Linked DNA regions of Homo sapiens. The protein of the gene in region 1 purifies or fractionates together with the protein of each later gene. This does not show direct contact. Each region holds a gene or a part of one and is shown in the gene's direction. Other genes may lie near its edges.

Region 1 (3,500 bases):
TATATATATATTTGCAGTGACTTTATTTCTTCATCACATTACCTAGGGTAAATTACATAATTCACAAGAATTTGACACTGTTGTCATCAGCCACATCTGAGTGGAGCATTTGCTTCTTAGTTTGGTATTAATAGTAACTACCTATGAATGACAAAAAGCTTAAAATGGCTATGTTAAATATCTGACGTGAATTCATTATAACACAGTTGACAAAGGATTTTGGTGGTTTCTGTGGAATACAATATTTAATTTATGGAATTTAAATCATAGAATTATGACTGACTACATTATACCAGGACGTATCAGGGAGATCAAGGTTATTGACCAATTCCTAGGAACTTCATAAAATTTCTGAAACAATAAAATCTACCCATACAAATATAAGGAAATTTAAGTAACTCTTCTTATTTGACAATGCTTCCCATACATTTTAACATATCAAATGAACCTAATTAGTTTAACATCTCTCTTTTTACAAAGTGAGAGAACATGAATCCTTAGAGATTTTCCAGGGGCTCTCTGAAAAATCTAAGTTGGTTTGGGGTCAAGCAGACTTCATTTAGAATTTGATTTTTGCAAATTGTCAAAAATGTCAAAAGATTGAACACTGCATTAAATAGGATCACAGGTCACTGTGAAACAATACTTTAGTTATCCACTTACTTAAGTGACAATACAAGATTTCAAAAGTAAGTATACGAGGTAACATACTTGCAGAGAGAAAAACAGCAACAACAAACAAATAAATTAAAAAAAAACTCAGTTTTTTTTTTTTAAGTGAGAGGACTTGGTTCTCATAAATAATTAAAGATGTGATAAATGTTAACATAAAGCGTAGGAAATTATTCTGATAAGACACAGAATGTTTTCTAGGCAGATTACTTAACAGGTAAAGAAAAAGTTTTATAATTTCTTATTAAGGGCAGACCAGTAATCCAAGAAAACTTTGTTGTTTTAACAGAGAAAAACCAAACTCTAGTTTTGAATCAGTAATCTTTTGATATACATTTTGTCATTTGAAAGACCACCAGGATGGCTAAATAGTAGAAAGGAGAGCTTTATTGGCATTAACTTGCAAATTGAGAAGAGAAACTCTCCAGTGTGGATCTAAGGTGCTCTTTATTTAAAGAAGGGAATGACAGGTTAGGTCTTATGCCTCACAGGGCCTGTATTATACATATTCAGCATGTTTTGGGGGAAAAGCTATATGTATTTATGAGAGGGCATGCCCAGTGGGTAAACATGTGTATAACATACATCCCATGTTCACTCTGACGTGAGGTTTTAGCATTGAAATGACATGGAATTCAGCTCTTTATGTCAAAAGGTGAACTGTAGTACACAAAGACAGTTTGTGTGCAGTCCCTATAAGCTGGCTGAAACTGGCTTAAGTTCTGCAATAGCTAATCAGAAAAGAATATTTGTAAAGTCAGTCCTCTGTCCTGCAGAGTTGTGGTGGTTTGGGCTGTAAATCAGCCTGAGAGCTCTGTTGTTAAGAAGTTTAGCTGAGGTGTAGTTTTCCTTATAGTGGTAGGAATTTGGAAATTTGCCATGCCATCTGGGTCCTGAACACTGGACTCCTAAGTAACTTTTGTTTCCTTAGCCTTAGGCCCATCTTGTTTGATAAATGGGCATCAATTTTGATCCCTCAGATCACAAGTCTATTAAAACAAATTTTTATAAAGAAACCCATTCAAATGTAGCCAGCTTTGACCAGGCAACATAAGACTTATTTTCTATAAAACTTCTACAATTTTTCATATCAATGCAATATAAGAGTTATTTCCCACTAACATTCTAAACTTTCAGGAGTTATTTTTCTGGTGGTGGTGGTGATGGTGTGATGCCTCACAGGAGGATCTAGAAGGGCAAAATACCAGCACCTGGAGTAGAACAAAGGAGGAATATGTGTTCCACATTAGATTATGAACAATTTATGATATATTCTTCATAAAAATACAAAAAGCAGGTAGCTACTATTCTTAACTTGACAACTTAGATCACTTTCCTGCACAATAATCTTCCTACAAAGAGCAGTATGGGTTTATAAAATTATTGGATACACTGCTTATGGAAGATGTGATTCCGAAGGGTCATCCCAAGTAGCAAATGATGATCTTCCAAGGAGAGTAGGGTCAATTAACTGCTGTTTTCTTTATTTTATTGAGCTCCATAATGAGCTAGTCATGTCACTCTAGGAAATGTCACTCAATGACCATATTATTTTGCTTAATAGAGTTGAAAATTATTTCAGTTCCCTAGGAAATTCTAGGTGTAAGGAGAGGGTAACACAAAAATAACTGAATGGGAATCAACATAGGAAGTAATAGAAAGGGACAGTGTCAAGAAATCTCTGATTTAATTATTTCAGCATGTATGCCCAAACCAGCTGGCCCCAGAATAAACAAGCAGCTTGCACCTTAGCAGGACCCAAAGAGAAAAGAAATCTTTACTACACCTCATGAGAGTATTTTCATTCAGTGTAGTGTTGCCTCTCCTCCCCAAACTGATAATTGGGCACTAAGAAAAGCTCTCAAGTTGAAAAGTCCTAGGTAGAGTTTGAAAGTATCCTTAGAGAAGTGAAGAATGGATTTCCAGGCTGCAAGGTGCTATTATCAGAAGTATTTGAGTAGGTGAAGGGTATATATACAGGAACGCAGGGATGCCTTCCCATCTCTTTCATGGATCCTTCATCTTTTAAAACAATGAGCATTTCTAATCAAGTAAACACTCACATTAACATGGGTTATACAGTTAACTCACATGACATCAACAGCAAATTTGTTCTTTTTTAAATCCAGGTAAGGTCTATTCATGTCATGTCTCTAATCTCTACATAAAACCAAGAATTACATGTTTAGTTTTATTTTTTGAAATTTAGTGAAGTAGCTGCTGGTTGTTTCTGTGAGGGACAAGAAAGATAAAACATAATTAATGTTATTTATGTTAACTTTTCTGCCACATTTTACATCTTGAAATTCTAAAAAATGCAAATCTGCTTGCAAAATGAACTGGGTCTGGATCTGAATTGGCTGAAGCTATTTAAGTCTTCTAACCACAGTTTCATAATCTGAAACATGTGAATATGTACAAAATGATTTTGATTAGAGATGATATGTATAAAATACTTAGTATACATTAACAAAATATATGGATCACATATTGATTTGCTGTACACCTGCACTGAATTAACCAGGTTTCAATAATGGCTTGGGCACAATACTAGGAAAAGTCTCTTCCAATAGAAATGTATTAGGTTGGTGCAAAAGCAATTATGGTTTTTGCCATTAAAAATAATGCCATTAAAAGCAATTAATGGCAATTGCTTTTCCACCAACCTAGTATTATTGGTTAACCAGAAGTTACGTAGCCCATGCAGAATCAATGCCAGCAAAATGTTAAACCACCCTTTAATATTCCCCTGTTGACAAAATAAATAAATAAAGGCAGCAAGCGATAGAAAAGCTGTGGGTATAAGGCTTGCTGATAATCTGGGCTGG
Region 2 (3,500 bases), on another chromosome or scaffold:
GAAGATGGGGAGAATAGATTAGAGCAAATGTTTGTCTGGTGATTTTATTACTTTCTAAATCGAGGCCACTGTTGGAAATAAATTTAAATAGAGGTCTCTTCTCTTCTTGAGCTTCTGTTTCCAGTGCTGCTGCTGGAAACAGAATGGTTTCCACAAGAAACCATTTTTTGTTTTTGTTTCCACAAGAAACCATTTTTTAATATGCCGTTGCATTTTATATTCATAGTATTTATAGTTAAATGTTATTAGAAGTAATACTGTGCATGGATTTGAATATAGCAAAGGCTGATGATGAAACATAGTTAACTGATAGTGAATATTAGTCCCACTACTCAGTACTAATGTTTTTAGTAAGTTCCCCCTCCATAAAGATACCCATCTGTTGAAATCGAATAAAGGTAATATTCTTTAAAATATCTTCTCCACAGCACCTGGGAAAGTGGCAGACAAAGTTATAATTGAAAACACTAGAGATTCAACCTTCGTTTTTATGGAAGGCTCTGAAGATGCTTATGTTGGATATATGACAATAAGGGTAAGACATGTTAAGATTTAAAATACACATTGAAATCATAAAGGCAGTAATTGTTTATTTCAAACAAAATTTTTACTTTTCAGTTTAACCCTGATGACAAATCTGCACAACACCACAATGCACACCACTGCTTAGAGATTACAGTAAATTGTAGCCCTATTATTGATCACTGTATCATCCGAAGTACATGTACAGGTTAGTGTTTTCTTTATATTTTACAATAAAATTTTGAGTCACTGTATGTTGCCCAGTAGGTTTTTACATAAATAAATAATTTTTCTACAGTTGGTTCTGCAGTATGTGTTAGTGGTCAAGGAGCATGTCCCACCATCAAGCACTGTAACATCAGTGACTGTGAAAATGTTGGACTATATATAACAGATCATGCACAGGTATTTTTTAATTTTGTGTGGTTTTTTTCTTTTTAGAAAATGTTTAAAAGCTCTACTGATGTTTGTTTCTGATAACTTGTTGTAGGGAATATATGAGGATAATGAAATTTCCAATAATGCGTTAGCTGGGATTTGGGTTAAAAATCATGGAAACCCAATTATTAGACGGAATCATATTCATCATGGACGTGATGTTGGTGTGTTCACATTTGATCATGGCATGGTAAGAACACTTATTTTTAATAGAAAAACGGACTTCTGTATCAGTTAAATTCCAAGTATGTTTCAGCATTATTTTCTCATCACCAAATTATCTGAATTGAAGAGTATAGGTTTAAAAGCAATTTCAGCATTATTTTTTAAAATTAATATGAAATATTTATTCTGTAAATTTATGCATCAGACATATCCATGTAGAGGTGATAGCGTTCTTAGGCAATATATGTGATCTTTGAGGGGAGTAAGGTATAACTCGTTAATTAAGTCTCAAATGTGTGTTCATAAAAGCCACCCAAAAGCTTTCTGTTTTAAAGAAAATTCCTGTATCCTCCAGTTTAATAAATCAAAATTTCCAAGGATGGGGCTTAGAATATGTATTTTTAATAAACAACATAAGTGAATCTAACACAGTTTGTAGAGTATACTTTGAGAAATAATGGTTTCATTGTTATTTTGCTTTTCATTTAATTCCTCTTGAAAATTTTAAACTGGCAGAACTTTAATAGGAGATACATTGATAAAATACCAATTTTAAAACCATTATGCAGCAGTTAATATTAGGCATCCTTATGGAATATACTGTGTTTTAAGTATTACCTTATAGTTTTACATAATTTTCTAGAGACATGACTTTTTGAGCTCTGAGATCACCATTTCAAAATAATGTTTTGAATGTCTTTTCAGATTTTTTTTCATTTAATGTCAAATTTTCCTTGAGGTAATTTTCAAGTCCTAATACAGCATTGGTAAAATTTTTTGTTGCGGAGTCCAAGATGGGAGAGAGGGTCACCACATTGTAGCAAATAGGATTATGGTGAGGTTTTGTTGCCTATTATACAATATTAAGCAATCCTGGGAATGTTGGATTCATCTATACAAAGAAATTTTTTTATTTTCATTTTTCTTTTTTTTTTTTTTTTTTTTTCTTTTTGAGACCGAGTTTCACCCTTGTTGCCCAGGCTAGAGTGCAATGGCAATGGTGTGATCTTGGCTCACTGCAACCTCCACCTCCTGGTTCAAGCGATTCTCATGTCTCAGCCTTCCAAGTAGCTGGGATTACAGGCATGCACCACCACGCCTGCCTAATTTTGTATTTTTAGTAGAAACAGGGTTTCACCATGTTGGTCAGGCTGGGCTTGAACTCCTGGCCTCAAGTGATTCACCTGCCTCGGCCTCCCAAAGTCCTGGGATTACAGGCATGAGCCACTGCGCCTGGCCAAGGCAGAGCTCTTTTTTTAAACTAAACTAGACCATGGCCGGGTGCAGTGGCTCACACCTGTAATCCCAGCACTTTGGGAGGCCAAGGCAGTTGGATCGCTTGGGCTCAGGAGTTCAAAACCAGCCTGGACAACATGGTGAAACTCTGTCTCTACAAAAAATACAAAAATTAGCTGGGCATGGTGGCTCACACCTGTAGTCCCAGCTACTTGGGGGCTGAGACAGGAGGATCACTTGAGCCCAGGAGACGGAGGTTGCAGTGAGCCAAGATGTAAGATGTGTGCCTTTGCATGGGATTTCAGGCGTGAGCCACCACACCTGGCCAAGTTCATCATTTTTGAAAGACCTCTGGTGATGGGATGGTCCCTTATTAAAGTTCACCATAGTAAGTTACTCCTCATCACACACACACTCCTTATACCATTTTAAAGAATAGATTTGGGCTTGTAAATATCACAGCATTTTTAAAAATAAGTCTAGACAATGCTATAGATAGATATTTCCATTAAGGATTAATGAGATTTATACATTTTAAGATTTATAAAGTATTTCAATCTATCTCCACCCCATCATTTTTATTTTTATTTTGCAAAGGTTTAAAATATTTGCATTCCTACAGTTATTGGTCTATATTTATTCTTTATTTATTTATCATTAGTTCTTTTATCATCGTTTCTCCATTCTTGAATTTAAATTTTGATTCATTCTTGGTATGGCTAGGTTTTGTCATCCAGCCATTTTTTGTTTGTTTTTTTTAAAGAACGCCTTATGGATATTGTAGCTTGAATTCTTGCCATGCGAGAATCCCTATCCATTGCCTTTTAACTTAGCTGAGTTTCTTTCTTTCCCTCACGATTCTGTAGACATTTTTCTATTGTAGCATTGAGCATGGCTGAGAACTCTGAGATCACATTGGGTTTTTTTCTTTCTTCTTTGCTTGAAAGATTGCTCTTCTACCTCAGTATCCATATTTTGGCTTTTGCTGATGTATTGTTTTACTATTTTTCTGTTCCATATGTTCCTTTCTTTAGAAACTTAGCTATCTTTCTGGTTATTTATATTGCTATGTTCTGTTCTGTTTAGTGTTGTGTGAGTTCCTCAAATCTGTGTTCCTTACCATGTCTCCGTGGTTTTGT
Region 3 (3,500 bases), on another chromosome or scaffold:
TCGTTGAAATAGGAACCTAGGTAATTAATTAGCTGAGAATGAAGATGGAGAAGAAAGTGTTTGAGGTTTGAGGAGAGAGAATTATGAAACAGCCATCCAAGAGAATGGGAGAATAAATGAGCTAAGGAAATATGATTGCCAGATGTGGTTCACTTTGAGGTTTGCTGAGGTCATGAATTTGAAGCAAGAATAGATATTTCAGTAGATATTACTAATGCTTTGTCCAGATCCTCTTGGATCCCTTTCTAGTGTTGCTGTACATGTCCTGCCTTTGTTGGTTTTTGCTTCCAATAAACAGCATCTATGCCTCTTTTTTTGGTAAACTGCCCTCAGGCTATTGGAGCACCCTTTGCTCTTACTGTTGTAGTACCTGAGGTGGACCTTAACCAATAGTGATTCAGAAGTATGAAATTTTCATTATCCTTGCTTCAGAGACATGTTTTGAACTTTGACACGGCAGAGTTCCCCCATTACCTTTACCCCCACCTACACACTGGTGAGATCAGGCTGAAGCTACCCTCTAAGGGACTTTGTCTTAGATCACACCTTTGCTTAGCTTTCTCCCCTTTCTTGACCTGCTTCCCCAAATTTCTTATTAGTTCCCCAAACATTTCCTTAATAAGTCACTTGTATATAATTTTTTTTCTCATGATCTGTTTATTGGGAACCTAACCTAAAACAGTAATTATGACTGTATGTGTCTTTCTTCAGCTATGGCCAGTTATATCAGTGTAAGCAAAAAAAAAATGGATTTAACATGGATGGGAGTTTTGCCAAGCAAACACCATGAAGTGAGGAAAGGGCAAGTGAAGTATACTGAAGGTGTATTCAAGGTAGTGGTTATATGATTTGCTATCAAATTTAACCTAGTTAAGGAAAGATTTATTAGTCTGTTCTCATATTGCTAATAAAGACATACCCGAGACTGGGTAATTTATAAAGGAAAGAGGTTTAATGGACTCACAGTTCCACATGGCTGGGGAGTCCTCACAATCATGGCAGAAGACAAAGGAAAAGCAAAGGGATGTCTTACATGAAGTCAGGCAAGAGAGAATGTGTACAGGGGAACTCTCCATTATAAAACCATCAGATCTCATGAGACTTATTCACCATCATGAGAACAGCACAGGAAAGACCCACTGCCATTATTCAATTACCTCCTACCAGGTCTCACCCATGATACATGGGAATTGGGAATTATGGGAGCTACAATTCAAGATAAGATTTGGGTGGGGACACAGCCAAACCATATCATTCCACCCCTGACCCTTCCCAAACGTCATGTCCTCATATTTTAAAATGAATCATGCCTTCTGACAGTCCCCCAAAGTCTTATTTCAGCATTAACTCAAAAGTCCACCGTCCAAAGTCTCATCTGAGACAAGGTAAGTCCCTTCTGCCTATGAGCCTGTAAAATCAAAAGCAAGCTAGTTACTTCCTAGATACAATGGGGGTACAGGCATTAGGTAAATATACCTGTTCCAAATGAGAGAAATTGTCCAAAATAAAAGGGGCTACAGGCCCCATGCAAGTCCAAAATCCAGTGGGACAGTCTTAAAGTTCTAAAATGATATCCTTTGACTCCATGTTCACATCCAGGTCACAGTGATGCAAGAGGTGGGCTCCCACAGTCTTGGGCAAAGGATATGGTCGGGGGATATGAGGTGAATGGCAGTATGATCAATGGATGGTAGGTCAAGTATTGATTGAAGGATTGTTGGAATTGAGGCACTAGCAGGAGTGAGTGGAAAGGTAGGAGGTTAGAGGTAGAAATGTTTAGAAACTAGGATTATTCAGTGCTTTTACTGTTGATATTGCTAAAGTGTAGGGTGTAACTCCTAGAATTACTGGCTGAGATAGTGTCAAGGAAAATATCACTGGTGGAGAAAATTCAAGGAACTGATGGGCCTAAATGTTAAAAGGGACATCTGTGTAGATTTTGAAATCAGTAATTAAGACAGGAGTAGTGTTAATGAGAGTAATAGTGAATTATGCCAAGATCCTTAAGAAATGAGGAGAAATGATCTGAGAGTTAGTAGGTGACTGCAAGAAAAAGGGGTAGAGGGTGGCAGAGTCTCATGGCCTGAGATTCAAAGCTGAGGGAAGAATTTACACAGGAGGGAGAGCAAAGAGTCTGGAAGTAGCAATGAGTTTCAGGAAGGATACAGACTCCATCCAGGCTTACTAGAAGACTGATGTGGGAAAAACATCTACCACTTAAGAAGCCTACAAAGGAAACAGGATCCTCATGGAATATTCAGGTTTTAGTTAGAGCAAGGAGGTGAAGGGTCTATTCAGAGAAGATATTGAAGCTGTATGGAATTGTGAAAGACTGTGAGTTCCAGGGGCACAGTGGAAGGATATCAGGAGTTGAGGGGGTGGAGAAGATGTGGGAGAAAATAGGGAATGTGCAGAGCCTTATGGGAATTACAATGCAGTAAACAAGTATAAAAGGGGAATTTGGGACTTCTGGTATTGATGATATAAAGAGGGATAAAGAACACAATGAAACCAGTTCCGGTGGTCTCAAGGTAGTAGTGCTGTCAGTGATAGGAAATGGGAAGTTGTAGGTATGTATTGGGGCTGGGGAGGGACAGTCTTACACTAAGTTAAGTAGTCTGGACTCACTGTTTTTCTTATTTTTTTAGTGATGCCAACTTTAAAAGCCTTTGTCCTCTATCATGAATTGTACTTTCTACCTATTTATCATGTGGATAAAGTGCAACTGTATTTCCTTACCCTGTGTATATTCAGATATTCAAAATGTCTAATAATATATGAAATAGCAGCCCAAGTATGATTTTTTAAAAAAACTGTCACTAAACTGACTTCCTACAAATCAGAGTAGGATTTCATGACTGTGTGTTCATGTTCAAACTTCATGTTGAGTTTTGGTTGCCTTATTCTGTTTCTGTAGTCATGGTTCCAGAAGACACACCTCTAGAGGATGGGCAACCACTTCTAGGGAAGTCCCTAGCAAAGCACCTAGCATGGTGCTAGCTCTGTTACACTGTGATAACGGCAGGGTTTTTACCCTCTCCAGCTCTTTTGGCTGATGTTAAATTCTTCCTTCTCAGTAATGAGATTCTTGACCAGTCATTGATGACTCCATTGCACTTGTCAGGAGTCTTGTGTTTGACTTCATCTTTGATTCTGCTTTGCCGTCTCTCATTTTTCACTGTGGCCTATTGAATACATAGGATCTGAGCAACTTCTTACAAGAAACTCTGTCTCTTTGTTTCTCGTTTTCCAGCTTTGTACTTCTATGCCTCTTGGACCAAATACTCAGTGTTTCCATGGGCAAACACTGGGTCATTTGTCTTTTAATCTTCTTTTTTCCTGATCTCTTATCAACAGCAAACACATTTGAGATGCTGTTGGCATCAATATAAAAAGTTATTTAAATTTGTGGAAATCCAAAGGGTTTAGGAGGAATGCCCGTGAGTTCAAATTTGCCGGGCTGGTTGTTATCCTTCATCATTGCTCACTCAATTTTGTAA
Region 4 (3,500 bases), on another chromosome or scaffold:
CTGGCAGCTGTGTGGTGATTCTCTGAAGAGACACTGCCTGCTTTTCTCTTAGCCACCATTTGAATTGCCTAGCTGATAGAAGTTTGGCTTCCAGAAAGGCACTATCAAACAAAATCAATGGCCATGTTAGCCACAAGTCCTAAGTTCTGTCCAAAAGTCTAAATCCATCATTTATGCCTTATAAGCCAATATATCGCAAACACCTGAGTTCCAGATAATTGCAGTGGCTTGCTATAAATTGGCCTACAATTCTGTCACCCTCTGACCTCTGATGTTGTTTTCACCTTGTCTTACGTGTGTACTATACCCTTCACAAATTTTCCCCTTTGTTCCCCCAAATCATCTCCCCTCTCATCAGCCACTTTCTCTGAAAAGAAATAATCTAGGATATACGTGAATAGTTCCTAGAATTCGCAAAACAAAGCTACTATTTGTTGAATATGGTCTGCGTGCCAAATGCATCTACAGGTATTTTTACCTGTGGTATCTAATTTATTTTTACGACAGTCTATGAAATGTGCTTCGTTATTTTAATTTACAGATGACAAAAATGGAAGTCAAAGAAGGCTTTCAAGGGATATGGGGGAAATGATGACTTCAGAACACTATTTGAAGGAACAGTTTGAGAGCTTGGAAACACGTGATGCTCCTTTTCTTCAGTTCCCAGAGTCTGGGACTCGAGTCCTGATTTTGCTCTTGGCCATGCAGGAGTTTGTCCTCACTATTTTCAGTAGCTCTTGTTCCTTTATAAACCCTTCATTTAGGAAATGTACTTAAAATTTTTTTTTTTGAGACATAATCTCGCTCTGTTTCCCAGGCTGGAGTGCAGTGGCGCGATCTCGGCTCACTGCAACCTCCGCCTCCTGGGTTCAAGCAATTCTTCTGCCTCAGCCTCCCAAGTAGCTAGGATTACAGGCACGCTCCACCACACTTGGCAAATTTTTGTATTTTTAGTAGAGACGGGTTTTCACCATGTTGGCCAGGCTGGTCTCAAACTCCTGGCCTTATGTGATCTTCCCACCTCAGCCTCCCAAAAGTGCTGGGATTATAGGCATGAGCCACTGCACCTGGCCATTTAATTTTTAATTTAAACAAATTTTTTAAAAGGAAATGTACTTTTAAAGGAAAGTACTGGAATTGGAGTTCTTGGTATCACTGATAGACATTGGTGAACACTTAATTTGTGCTACAAATGAAAGCAAATCGAGGATAGAGAGGGCTTTGCTCTTTTTAGAGATAGCCGATTTCAGTTTCAATAAATCACAATCGCTTTCATTATGGCTAAGAATCTTTGCTTTTCAGTATTTTTGAAGTGTGTTTCTGTGTGCCCTAGACAATCAAGCATTCAACCTGAAGAGGTTCGTTTCTTGTTGTTATTTCATTATTCAACCGAGTGTGCTCCTCAGTTGTTTTGGGGAGGGGCATATTCTATGAAGTCGTGTGAGTCAGAGATCTTGTCTTTTGTTTCTTTATGGCTCTAATTTCTGACACATCATGGACCTTCAACAGAAATTTGTTTGCTTGGGTAGTGGAGGAACAGTAGAAAGATCAGTTGTGGCCACGAGTGATGGTTCACACCTGTAATCCAGGCACTTTGGGAGGCCGAGGCAGGCAGATCACCTGAGGTCAGGAGTTCAAGACCAGCCTGGCCAACATAGGGAAACCCCATCTCCTAAAAATGCAAAAATTAGCCAGGCTTGGTGACACATGCGTGTAGTCCCAGCTACTCAGGAGGCTGGGGCAGGAAAATCCCTTGAACCCAGGAGGCGGAGGCGGAAGTTGCAGTGAGCTGAGATCGTACCACTGCACTCTAACCTGGGCAACAGAGCAAGACTCTCCCTCAAAAAGAAAAAAAAGGAGGAAAGATCAGTTGCTTCAGGATATTTAATTTAGCTAAAAAGTGACAAATGAAACAGTACTGATACATGGTTAGTTTGGATGTAAGTTATTGATTCTGAATACTTTTTTTTAATTACAATTACTGTTGATTTATCCAAGAATGCATAGCTATGATTAAGAGATACAATTAAGTTAAAGAAAAGTGAACTGAATATCAAAGAATATTTCCAGTAGATAAGGTTAGGACTAACTCAGGCAGAGGACTCCCAGTAGAAGGGGTGGGAGGCAATTAACACCACGCACGTCACTTAGATCTGCAGTGGGGATAGATTCTGAAGTCGGCAGGATTGTGAGATCGTATCTCTAGTTTTATTGATTTGCCTTCTTACATGGGTATATGTTCACAGCCTCCCACCCCTTACGGACAAGAGTTTATGTGTGTGTTAAATATTCTGATTGTAGTTGTTTGTTTGTTTGTTTGTTTTTAGAAAAAAGAAATCCTCTTTTTAGAACATCTCTTGGTGGTACCATCAGAAATGTCTTCCTTAAGTGGAAAAGTCCAAACCGTTTTGGGCCTTGTAGAGCCAAGCAAACTGGGCCGTACCCTGACCCATGAACACCTGGCCATGACCTTTGACTGCTGTTACTGTCCACCTCCCCCGTGCCAGGAAGCTATTTCCAAAGAACCTATCGTGATGAAAAATTTATATTGGATTCAGAAAAACGCCTATTCCCATAAAGAAAACCTTCAATTAAATCAGGAGACAGAAGCCATAAAGGAAGAACTGTTGTATTTTAAAGCTAATGGTGGAGGGGCTTTGGTGGAAAACACAACCACTGGGATTAGCCGAGACACACAGACGTTGAAGAGGCTTGCAGAAGAGACTGGCGTCCATATCATATCTGGAGCCGGGTTTTATGTGGATGCAACTCACTCCTCAGAGACCAGGGCCATGTCAGTGGAGCAGGTAAAAAGCCTAAGTTCTTTGACAGTATTTGTTCATAAATTCAGAACAGCCAGAACCTTGGAAATGCCCTGGGTTCAGAGGTAGCTGGGCATGCTACGGAAATTTGCTAGCTAGCAAAGACATCTGCCAGTTGGGGCCCCAGTTAGTAACACTGTATTTCATAAAGAAAGTGCCAATTTTGCAAGCAAGCCTTGTGGTAAAGAAAAAAGAAAATAATAATAATAAGTGTCAAGGAAAGAGATCTTAGTGCACTGGTCATTGCAAAATCCAACGTGATAATAGTTAGATTTGTGTGTATCGTATCTGTCCTCAGTATTGGCACCACAGTCTATTTGTAAACCTCACTTTTCCATCTTAAGTTATGCTACCTCGATTTTTTTTCACCCTGGATTTTATAATAACCAGCAATGAAGATTCACTGTAGGGTGAAACTTGGCAGTCAAAGACTTGGCACATTTGTGAATATGTTTCAGTTTCCTTTCACAAAACAGGAGAGGTGGAAGAAAATTCATTCCCCTGTGTTTTGTCATAATATGGTCTTAAGAATGGGCAGAAGGAAGTAAATTGTTTAGGGACAAAAAGAATAAGGTGCAAAACCTTTTTTGCACGTGTATGTGTTCTCTTTCTAAACACACATGTATCTATTTATACATGTTTACACATATATGTATATATTCGTATGTATCTTCCATT

What was found. The genes of interacting proteins can lie anywhere in the genome.
Region 2: the proteins of KHDRBS2 (region 1) and FBXO11 purify together in Homo sapiens (affinity purification with mass spectrometry; one large-scale study listed by BioGRID and IntAct). This does not show direct contact.
Region 3: the proteins of KHDRBS2 (region 1) and ACAD11 purify together in Homo sapiens (affinity purification with mass spectrometry; 2 studies listed by BioGRID and IntAct, with this or other methods). This does not show direct contact.
Region 4: the proteins of KHDRBS2 (region 1) and PTER purify together in Homo sapiens (affinity purification with mass spectrometry; 2 studies listed by BioGRID and IntAct, with this or other methods). This does not show direct contact.

What each region holds. Positions count from the first base shown.
Region 1 is NC_000006.12:61,978,726-61,982,225, reverse strand, and holds part of KHDRBS2 (KH domain-containing, RNA-binding, signal transduction-associated protein 2), read left to right. Parts: intron 1-3,500. UniProt on the Homo sapiens protein: RNA-binding protein that plays a role in the regulation of alternative splicing and influences mRNA splice site selection and exon inclusion. Binds both poly(A) and poly(U) homopolymers. Phosphorylation by PTK6 inhibits its RNA-binding ability.
Region 2 is NC_000002.12:47,829,999-47,833,498, reverse strand, and holds part of FBXO11 (F-box only protein 11), read left to right. Parts: intron 1-428; coding exon 429-535; intron 536-618; coding exon 619-730; intron 731-820; coding exon 821-927; intron 928-1,012; coding exon 1,013-1,150; intron 1,151-3,500. UniProt on the Homo sapiens protein: Substrate recognition component of a SCF (SKP1-CUL1-F-box protein) E3 ubiquitin-protein ligase complex which mediates the ubiquitination and subsequent proteasomal degradation of target proteins, such as DTL/CDT2, BCL6, SNAI1 and PRDM1/BLIMP1.
Region 3 is NC_000003.12:132,649,810-132,653,309, reverse strand, and holds part of ACAD11 (acyl-CoA dehydrogenase family member 11), read left to right. Parts: intron 1-3,500. UniProt on the Homo sapiens protein: Acyl-CoA dehydrogenase, that exhibits maximal activity towards saturated C22-CoA.
Region 4 is NC_000010.11:16,482,010-16,485,509, forward strand, and holds part of PTER (N-acetyltaurine hydrolase), read left to right. Parts: intron 1-1,128; exon of another isoform or gene 1,129-1,925; coding exon of another isoform or gene 1,926-1,940; intron 1,941-2,327; coding exon of another isoform or gene 2,328-2,375; coding exon 2,376-2,807; intron 2,808-3,500. UniProt on the Homo sapiens protein: N-acetyltaurine hydrolase that regulates feeding by catalyzing the hydrolysis of N-acetyltaurine into taurine and acetate. N-acetyltaurine has anorexigenic and anti-obesity effects that are dependent on GFRAL receptor and GDF15.